Linked DNA regions of Homo sapiens. The protein of the gene in region 1 purifies or fractionates together with the protein of each later gene. This does not show direct contact. Each region holds a gene or a part of one and is shown in the gene's direction. Other genes may lie near its edges. The genes, in order: IRAG1, FRMD5 and BOK.

Region 1 (3,235 bases):
TACAGAAGTAGGAAAGGCTTCTCAGAAAAAAAAAAAAAAGTATAGGCTGAATTTAGCTCAGTGCTTGAAATGGGAAGATATGAATTATTATATACGCATCTGTCCACACATACACACATACTGTTGTGTACACACACACAACATGCCTGTGCACAGAGCCAACAACCCTTCAAAAGTGTGCTCTGGGTGTGTACCTCTGGATAAATAAGATGCATGCCAAGCCAACCCACAGATTTTCACCAGTGTGGGGCAGTCACCAGGCACCTGTTCAATGAGCTGTCCACATGGATTGAAGATGTTTTAAAAACACAGAAAACTCATGGCTTCAATGGCAGACTTACTAGTCTCCATTTCAAATGCCAACTCTGAGCTGCTGTACAGCACAATCTATTCCCTATTCTCTCTTTGAAAACAGTTAACCCACCTCACAGGTGAATGAGGAGAGAAGATGTGCTTTCTGCTTCAGTCTCTTACTCTGTGTGTGACCACATGCAAGAGTAAACTTGCACCTCAGTGCTTCAGTTCAAATGGGGTTTCCAACCCCAGTATAATTAGGGGTGTTTCAGAGCATCCCCAGTTATTTAGCACAACACTGAAGGAGCACATCCCCTCTCCATTTTGACTTCTCTCCCCACTTTTACAGCCACTGCCTTCATCAGTTTTGTAGAGGTTTGATTTCCATGTGGGTTTTGTTGTCATTGTTTTGCATTTTTGTTTTGTTATTGATATTGTTTGCTTTCATTGCTAAAACTCATATACGACTTACTATGAGCCAAGCACTGTTCTCAGTATTACATAGGTATGAATTCATTTAAGTCCTGAAGAAAAAGAAAAAAAAATACGAAGTGGATATTACCCTTCCCATTTTCAAATAAGGAAACTGAAGCACAAAAAGAACAAGTAACTTGACAAGGACACCCCGGTAGTAAATCATGGGGCTGGAGCTCAACCCCAGGGTAGGCTGGCTCCAGAGCTGTGCTCTCCTTGACTCTTCTGATGGTCTCCTAGCTGGAAGCCTCACATTTCAGTCTCATTCCCCCAAGTGGCCCATCAGCTACTCCATCTCTGGCTCCCCAACTAAACAGTTTCTCTCATAGTGCTGGACCTCCACTCACTAGTTTTTTTTCCAGCTGTTCTTCTCTTTTCTTCAGGTCACTCTTCTCGACCGAGTGCAAAAATTATCCCCTCCATACCAGCTTTGATGACCTTCCTTCCATACTCCTCACCAGACACAACATAATAGGTCACACACTCCTCTGTGCTTTCTGGCACGTTTTAAACATTATTATTATTGACCTTTACCTATAGTATACCATGGCCTATTTATGTATCCATCTCCCCTAGCATTTTTCCTCAAAGACAAGAACCATGTCTTACCCATCTCTTGGGTAAGTGCCTAGCATGGTGGCTGACGCTTGGGAGGGTGTCATTAAATGTTGCTCAAAAGAACAAGCAAACATTTAAGGTGGTGGAGAGCAGCCTGGGGACAGCTGACATGCTGCATGCTTCTCAGTACCAGCACCATCACAATGCAAAAAGCAACATCTTTCTTAACCTCAGCTTATTCTGTTTTTCAGTCTACTCTGTGAGAGAGCAGGAATGAGACCAGACTAGCAACACCATTGCCAAGCTCAAGGACTGGGCTCAATGCAGTCACTCCTTCAGAGAGACCCCCCACCCCAAGCATGCCCCACTTTAAAATAGCATGTTTATTGAAGGGGGCATCCTTTACAGTAGCTAGAAAATGACTGAGGCCCAAGCCAGGGTTGATCAAGGATGTGCCATTAAGGTAAAGAGTTACAGAGCAGGGCAGAGGGACTCTGGGGGCAGAAGTGGATGATTTGCCCGGCCTCTTCCAGGGGGTCTGGATACAACTGAAGGAGCTTTAGCTACATGAGGCCCTCAGAGCCAAAGACAGGATGCAAATAGAGTTCTAGAGAGTGGCCGTGGAAGCAGAACTCCAGGTGGGGAATGTTCAATCTCTGCCTCCCTTAAAGCAGGGCCAGGCTCAGCTGGCCCCATTGTTCACTTGGTCACAAGTTTCCTACCTTTGTTTCTGGATGAGTCAAAGGCCAGGAAGGCAGTTATGGAGAGCTCCTGCACCTCCAGCTGCCCCACAGAAAAGCCTGCAAGAGTACTTCCAGGCACAGGCCCTCTCCCACCCTATTCCATTTGTAAGCAAGGGAGGTCGAGGAAAAGGACATCTCCAAAAGGGAGCATAAGAATAGCCATATATACAGGGGCTGAAAAAGTGCTCATGAGTCCATCTTTTCTGGAAAGCAAAGACCAGCCTGAAGCAGTGGGAGCTGCTGCCCAAGCGGTAGTGAACTGGAGAGAAACAGGCCCTGGATTTTCAGTGAGGATGTGGATCTGAAGAGTCCCCCAAATGCCTCTGAAGTCTGACATCTCTGCTTAGCCCTAGGAGTCTGGTTCCCTGCCTTCAGTTGCAGAGTGATGTGTTTGTGTCATTGTTGATGTCACCTCCTAAAAAGACCTTCACTTTCTGGCTGCCACAAAGCCATATGTGTTGCTCCCCATATACAGCCTGACAGAGTAAATGGAGAGGAAGTGCTGGATTTGTGTATCACTGGCTATCAGTTCCTCATGTTGTTAAGCCTCACACAGGTGTGCTAGCATTGAACTGTAGAGTGTCACATACCTGAGTTTGAAAATAAAAGCACATTTCCAAACCTCTGGCAGCAGCCAAATGCCTCCTCATTTTATGGAGTTGAATTACAGTCTTACCCCAACCCAGAATTAGATGCCTTTGGATATATTAGTGCATTCCAGAACCAAGTCAGAGGTCCCCAACCCTTGGTCGTTATACTATGGGCTACCTCACAGGGGCTGGATCAGTTCCTCCTCTTCCCTTCCCCATTCCTGATCCTGGTTTCCTGTATCTTCCTGGTCTATGATTTTTTTAATTAACACAGTTTGCTGTGATTGAGTCTGCTGAGTTTTTAACCAACCTGATTTCCACAGCTGAACTATTTTTGTCTTTCTTACAGCTAGCTGCAGGGGAATGTGGACTTTCCAAATCTAGTTCCCTAAAAATAAACTCTCCTGCCCAATACTTCACACCTTTTTTTACTCCCTTCTCTGCCTACCAAAGCCAGAGGATTCAGATGAGAACACTGAGACCCGAGAAAATGGCAGAACCACTAGACGGAAGCTGGGTCTTTGAATGAGCACTCCCAGTATTGAACTGTGACATGAATAAGAAATAAGATTTTAG
Region 2 (3,654 bases), on another chromosome or scaffold:
CAAGAAAAACCATTCAAAATCAGGACCAAATCTAGCTATTCTTATGCCTCATTTGAGTCATTTTACTATGTCACAATTCAGGGGCCCTTTTCCTTCAGTAGAAATTGTGAGGCCTCTCAAAGCATGGAAAATGAAATAAGGGATTGGATAAAGCAGTGGTTCTCAAAGTATGGCCCCTAGATAGGCATTATCCATATCACCTGGGTACTTGTTAGAAATGCAAATTCTTGACCCCATCCCAGACCTAGTGAATCAAAAACTCCGGGGATGGAGTTCAGCAGTCTGTTTAACAAGTCTTCCAGGTGATTCTTAGGCTTGCTGAGGTTTGAGAATCACTACTACTGGGTTACAGAGATATTTAGTAGGTAAAATGGACAAGTGTTGATTGACTGGATGTAAAATGTGAGGGAGAGGGAGAGGTGAAGAAGGAATCTCACATTTCTAACTTTTGATTTATTCCTGAATTGTCTTAATAGATTCTCTTCCCTTGCAAGGTAAATGCTAGGTTGTCTACAGATATGCATACCTATTTTCAAGTGGGTAGGAGTCTAAAGATTCTGCAGTGCGTCATTATACCAGTTTGATGCTGTTGTATTTATTGGTTAGTATTTTTTGTCTCTCCTGACCTAAAAACAGTAGATTATTGTATATTTGTATATTTTTTAAAAATAAATTTTGTTCACAACTTGACGCACTAGGGGAAAGGAAAAGTCAAGGCCCCTGTTGTCGAAGGGCTTACAACTTAGGGATTGCAAACACGTAAATAACAAACTATAAAGCATCATGGAATTTGGAGCTAAGACAAGGGGATATGTTGTGGCAATGCAGATTTGGGTTGGAGTTTGGGAAATGGGGAGGGATTCCAAAATTAATAATTGTTTTTCAAAGGAGATGAAATTTGAACCAGGTTATGAAAAATTGCCAAAAGCAGGGCCAGGCACTGTGGTTTATGCCTATAATCTCAGTGCTTTGGGGGACCAAGGCAGGAGGATCCCTCGAGGCCAGGAGTTTGAGTCTATCCTGGGCAACATAGCAAGACCTTGTCTCTACAAAAAATTTAAAATTTAGGCTGGCATGTTGGTGTATACCTGTAGTCCTAGCTACATGAGGGGGCTGAGGTGGGAGGATTTTGTAAGCCCAGGAGTTTGAGGTTACAATGAGCTATGATTGTGCCATTGTACTCCAGCCTGGGCTACAGATGGAAACGCTGTCTCCTAAAAAAAAAAAAAAAATTGCCAAAAGCAAAAATGGCATGGGGATGCGTAAAGAGCATTAGAGGCTGAGTTAACAGCAGACTACTTCTAAGTGGAAAAGTTAAAAATGTAAAGTCTTTAGTTTTTTTCTTTAGTATGTTTATCTGACTTACTCTGGTATAGTTGAGTCAAACAACAGAAATCTGCTTGGGGAAAATTCCTGTCAGTAAATTTCAATCATACTTGACATGCAGAGAGGAATCAATCTAAACTAATAATGCATAAAGCTAGTGTTGAATTAAATCTAATTCTAAAATTGTATAACACAAATTAAGATTCTTCACAAAGCAATGGCATTATGTCAAGAAAAGGTGGATTCAGATTTCAATCTTCATTCTGTGGCTGCAGTAACTACATATGAATTTTATTTCCAAGAGGACTCTTCTCTTCAGGATCAGTTTAATCATCTGACAAAAAAGAGGGTATCAAATTGTAACATTTAGCCGATGTTTGAAAATCCTTTGATGAATACAGTGCAGCCCCAATTGTGCATTAACAGTTAAGAAATGTGACCCATGGAGTCCTAAAAGGCACATTTCAGCATCTCTGTTCCCAAACCTAAGTGGCCACCAAAAATAGCTTCTCTTGAGGACCGAGGATTGCGTCTCTGAATTCCCCAGTGAACCCCTGACAGCTTCGAAGTTCCCAGCCTTATACAGGGTGTACTTTTAGCACTCAACACAATGCCAGGCTAGAGCTTTGGGGATGGGAACCTCCAAGAAAGCACTGTTCGGCATTTGGGCAATCAGTGTTCGGCAGAATGCCAATGCTAATAGGTTATTTTGCTCTGGAAAAGGAGAAAAAGAAGGGATAGTCTAAAGACTGATGAATAGGGGATGACTGACAATACGGACACTCCACTTTATTGGAGAGATTAAGGGGGCTTGCTGTGAAGTGGTATTGTGGGAGCCAGAAAAATTAGCAAAGGCCCACAGGCCCAAGACCTGAAATAAATAGTGGTACATCAAACCCGCATGCCCTAGGGCACACTCAAATGTCTGGCCACTTTCAGTGAACTTGTAGCAGGAAAAAGCCAAATCATTAGGAACCCTCATAGTCTGGTACTCCATCCAGGCACTCCTTAGTCAGGCAAATTATCCTTCACCTCCAGACAGGTGCAGAGCCTTTTTTCTCTACACCCTGACTTAACCCAAGGGCCTGTAGTCTGGGCCTCAGTCTAATTTTGAGGATACTGAGTGGAAAAGTTGGCTTCAGGATTTCCAAAGGATTCCAAATACTCTAGGCAGGAGGTGCCACTAAGATTCTTGTTTTGTTAGACTTGAACCAAGCAGGTAAGAACATTGATCATAACACAAGAAAGGCCGGGTGCGGTGGCTCACGCCTGTAATCCCAGCACTTTGGGAGGCCGAGGTGGGTGGATCCCCTGAGGTCTGGAGTTTGAGACCAGCCTGACCAACGTGGAGAAACCCTGTCTCTACTAAAAATAAAAAATTAGCTGGGTGTGGTGACGCATGCCTGTAATCCCAGCTACTCTGGAGGCTGAGGCAGGAGAATCGTTTGAACTGGGGAGGCGAAGGTTGTGGGTGAGCCGAAATCACGCCATTGCACTCCAGCCTGGGCAACAAGAGAGAAACTCTGTCTCAAAACAAACAAACAGACAAAAAACACAAGAAAGCAGAATTAGTGAATTCACATAAGGATCTCATGTACTTCCAGAGGTAATTTAAGATGGAGAAAGCATCTAGCCTGCCCTCTTTTAGATTTTTTGCCTCTAGAGCATTTTTTTTTTTTTAAGATAAGAGTCTCACTCTGTCGCCCAAGCTGGAGTTCAGTGGTATGATGTCGGCTCATTGCAACCTCTGCCTCCTGGGTTCAAGCAATTCTTGCGTCTCAGCCTCCTGAGTAGCTGGGATTACAGGCATGCACCACCACGCTCAGCTAATTTTTGTATTTTTAGTACAGAAGGGGTTTCACCATGTTGGCTAGGCTGGTTTCTAAACTCCTGACCTTAAGCAATCCACCCGCCTCAGCCTCCCAAAGTGCTAGGATTACAAGTGTGAGCCACCATGCCTGGCCTTGCCTCTAGAAGACTCTAAAGGCCCCAAAGTTATTATGGAATTGGAGGTTTGTAGGTCAGAAGGACTCCATGGATTGGCAATGATGCCTGGAATGTTATAAGGCATATTAAGCCTGCAATTTCTCAGTATACACTTATCTGTCTAACAGAATAGCCCCTCAGCTCTTCGGGAGGCCATTTGGAAGTTATACTATCAAAAGAAATTTGGCTGTTGAGCAGTGAAACTCTGATAAAAACATAAGGAAGTCCCAGTACTGGAATGCAACTTCTTCAAACTATGCCCAGCTTCAGATTCTAGTACATGTGAAATAGGTTTTAAAAAAACCAGGAGAGGAGTTTGCTTGGTGTAGCTACAGAACATAA
Region 3 (3,097 bases), on another chromosome or scaffold:
GGTGATCTGCCCACCTCGGCCTTCCAAGGTGCTGGGATTATAGGCGTGAGCCACTGTGCCCAGCCTGCCTTCTGTGGCTGAGTAACATCCACCACATTTGTATCCATTTATCTGTTGAAGGATACTTGGGTTCTTTCCACCTTTTGGCAATTGTGAATTGGCTGCTGTGAATGTCTGTGACTGAGTGTTTGTTTGAGCTGATTTATGTTTTCATAACAAATCCAGGTTGGCCGCTGTATGAGGGTGGATTGGAGAGCAGTGCTTCATCTTTGCATGTACAGTGTCCTCAGGCTAACTCCCTCCAGGGACCACTGCTGACTCCCTCCGGGGACCGCTGCTAACTCCCTGCGGGGATCACTGCTGGGCTGCATGTTTTGTGGCCATTCAGATACTGCCAGTGCCCTCAAGCTGGGCTTCCCACCAAGGTTTACAAGGCTGTGCAGTGGCCTGAATCCTCACACTGCCATTTAAAAGCATGTATTTATTTATTTATTTAGAGACGGGGTCTCGCTCTGTCGCCCAGGCTGGAGTGTACTGGCGCGATCTCAGCTCACTGCAACCTCCGCCTCCCCGGGTTCAAGTGATTCTCCTGCTTCAGCCTCCCGAGTAGCTGGGATTATAGGCGCGTGCCACCACGCCTGGCTAATTTTTTGTGTATTTTTAGTAGAGACGGTTTCACCATGTTGGTCAGGCTGCTCTTGAACTCCCAACCTTGTGATCTGCCCGCCTCGGCCTCCCAAAGTGCTGGGATTCCAGGCGTGAGCCACCGCGCCTGGCGTAAAAGCTTTTAATGCAACAGATTACATTTTGTTTTAATTTGCCTTTCTTTGGTTATTAATGAAGGTAAACATTTTTCGTGTCTCTTATTATAATTTTCTTTTGTGAATCAGCTGTTCCAGTTCTGTGCTCATAGTTCTTTTTTGAAAGCCTCTCTTTTCTCGCTCACGTATAAGACGTCTTTCCGTGTTGAGGCGTCGTGTCCTGCCTTTTATTCTTTCCCCCGCTGTCACCATCTTTCGTCCTCTCTTTCAAGGCTGCTCCCATCTCAGTTCAGCCTCAGCAGGTTAGGGGTCTGGGGAAGGCAGTTTCTCTGCGGGCCTCAGCTTCTTTATGTGTAAAATGTGGACGCCAGGCCTGTTGTGGGAACAGGCAGCCCAGGGGTGCCACCCGTGAGGTCACTGGCTGCTCACTCCATCTGCTGCTGCCCTCAGTTCCCTCGCCTCACCCCACGTTGTCCCTGCGGCCTCCTGCACAGACGTGGGCTGGGCAGGTGTGCAGTGGAGGCCGAGAAACCTGCCTGCCCAAGAACTACCTGACAGGCATCCTGTCAGGGAGCGGTCCCCCCTTGGGACGGTCCCTGGTCATTAGCTGGACGGCAAGCAGGACAGCGGCTCAGAGAGGCCCAGCCCCTTCCTTAAGTGCTCCCGTGGGCGGGATTCAAGTCCTGATCTTGACCATCTCTCTCCCTGCAGGCATCACGTGGGGCAAGGTGGTGTCCCTGTATGCGGTGGCCGCGGGGCTGGCCGTGGACTGTGTGAGGCAGGCCCAGCCTGCCATGGTCCACGCCCTCGTGGACTGCCTGGGGGAGTTCGTGCGCAAGACCCTGGCAACCTGGCTGCGGAGACGCGGCGGATGGGTGAGCGCCTGAGTGCCCGTGTGGGTGGGAGAGCTGGGGTGCGAGGGTGCAGAGGTACAGGAGGGAGTGGTGGATGGGTGAGCCTCTGAGCGCCTGGGGGGTGGGAGAGCTGGGGTGCGAGGGTACAGACGTACGGGAGGGAGTGGCGGATGGGTGAGTGTCTGAGCGCCTGGGGGGTGGGAGAGCTGGGGTGCGAGGGTGCAGAGGTACGGGAGGGAGTGGCGGATGGGTGAGCCTCTGAGCGCCTGGGGGGTGGGAGAGCTGGGGTGCGAGGGTACAGACGTACGGGAGGGAGTGGCGGATGGGTGAGTGTCTGAGCGCCTGTGGGGGTGGGAGAGCTGGGGTGCGAGGGTGCAGAGGTACAGGAGGGAGTGGTGGATGGGTGAGCCTCTGAGCGCCTGGGGGGTGGGAGAGCTGGGGTGCGAGGGTACAGACGTACGGGAGGGAGTGGCGGATGGGTGAGTGTCTGAGCGCCTGTGGGGGTGGGAGAGCTGGGGTGCGAGGGTGCAGAGGTACAGGAGGGAGTGGTGGATGGGTGAGCCTCTGAGCGCCTGGGGGGTGGGAGAGCTGGGGTGCGAGGGTACAGACGTACGGGAGGGAGTGGCGGATGGGTGAGTGTCTGAGCGCCTGTGGGGGTGGGAGAGCTGGGGTGCGAGGGTGCAGAGGTACAGGAGGGAGTGGCGGATGGGTGAGTGTCTGAGCGCCTGTGGGGGTGGGAGAGCTGGGGTGCGAGGGTGCAGAGGTACGGGAGGGAGTGGCGGATGGGTGGTCACCTGAGCACTCCTGGGGGAGATGGGTGAGGCAGGGGGTGGGGCAAGGGCCGAGACCTACAGGCAGGCCCTGGACTCTCCTCTGCCCAGATCCAGCACTGACTTACCCCCGATCCTACCCCTGTGCTAAGGACCCGCTGCCCCAGCCCCCGCCCTCCCGAGTGGGAAAAGCAAGGCCCCGAGGGGTGGGTGTCAGAGCCAAACCCTTCCTCTGTCTCCACGCCCCCAACTTCCTGCCCTGCTCCGGCCAGACCGCAGTTGCCGCTGGGCCCTGGGTGTGGAGGGTGGCTCCCCTGCCGAGAGTCTAGCCTTCTTTCCTGTACAGCGGGTGTTGGCCTGGTGTGTAAATCAGCGGCCAGGGGTGACAGCGCTCAGACCCCTCTGCTGGGGCCTTAGCTTTAGCATCTCGAGAGATTGAGGTCACGTGGTCTGCGGGGGCTGTGGTCTCCTCTGAAGGCTGAATTGGGGGTGCAGAGGGCAATGTCCCAAGATGTCGCACATGGCTACAGGTGTCCCTCAGCACAGAAACCCCAAGACTTCCGTCCCCTCCTGTCTTCCTCCTGTGGAGTCTGGCATGGGGCTGGGCACTGTGTGCCCAGTGGGCGACGACACTTTGAGCAACGCCAAGGCCACAGGTCCAGGCTGCAGGGAAAAGCCTTCATGTATTAGCAGGAAGTGAAGGGAATAAGAG

What was found.
Region 2: the proteins of IRAG1 (region 1) and FRMD5 purify together in Homo sapiens (affinity purification with mass spectrometry; one large-scale study listed by BioGRID and IntAct). This does not show direct contact.
Region 3: the proteins of IRAG1 (region 1) and BOK purify together in Homo sapiens (affinity purification with mass spectrometry; one large-scale study listed by BioGRID and IntAct). This does not show direct contact.

Annotation. Positions count from the first base shown.
Region 1 is NC_000011.10:10,572,550-10,575,784, reverse strand, and holds the end of IRAG1 (inositol 1,4,5-triphosphate receptor associated 1), read left to right. Parts: 3' UTR 1-2,690; downstream 2,691-3,235.
Region 2 is NC_000015.10:44,185,146-44,188,799, reverse strand, and holds part of FRMD5 (FERM domain-containing protein 5), read left to right. Parts: intron 1-3,654. UniProt on the Homo sapiens protein: May be involved in regulation of cell migration. May regulate cell-matrix interactions via its interaction with ITGB5 and modifying ITGB5 cytoplasmic tail interactions such as with FERMT2 and TLN1.
Region 3 is NC_000002.12:241,568,653-241,571,749, forward strand, and holds part of BOK (bcl-2-related ovarian killer protein), read left to right. Parts: intron 1-1,472; coding exon 1,473-1,636; intron 1,637-3,097.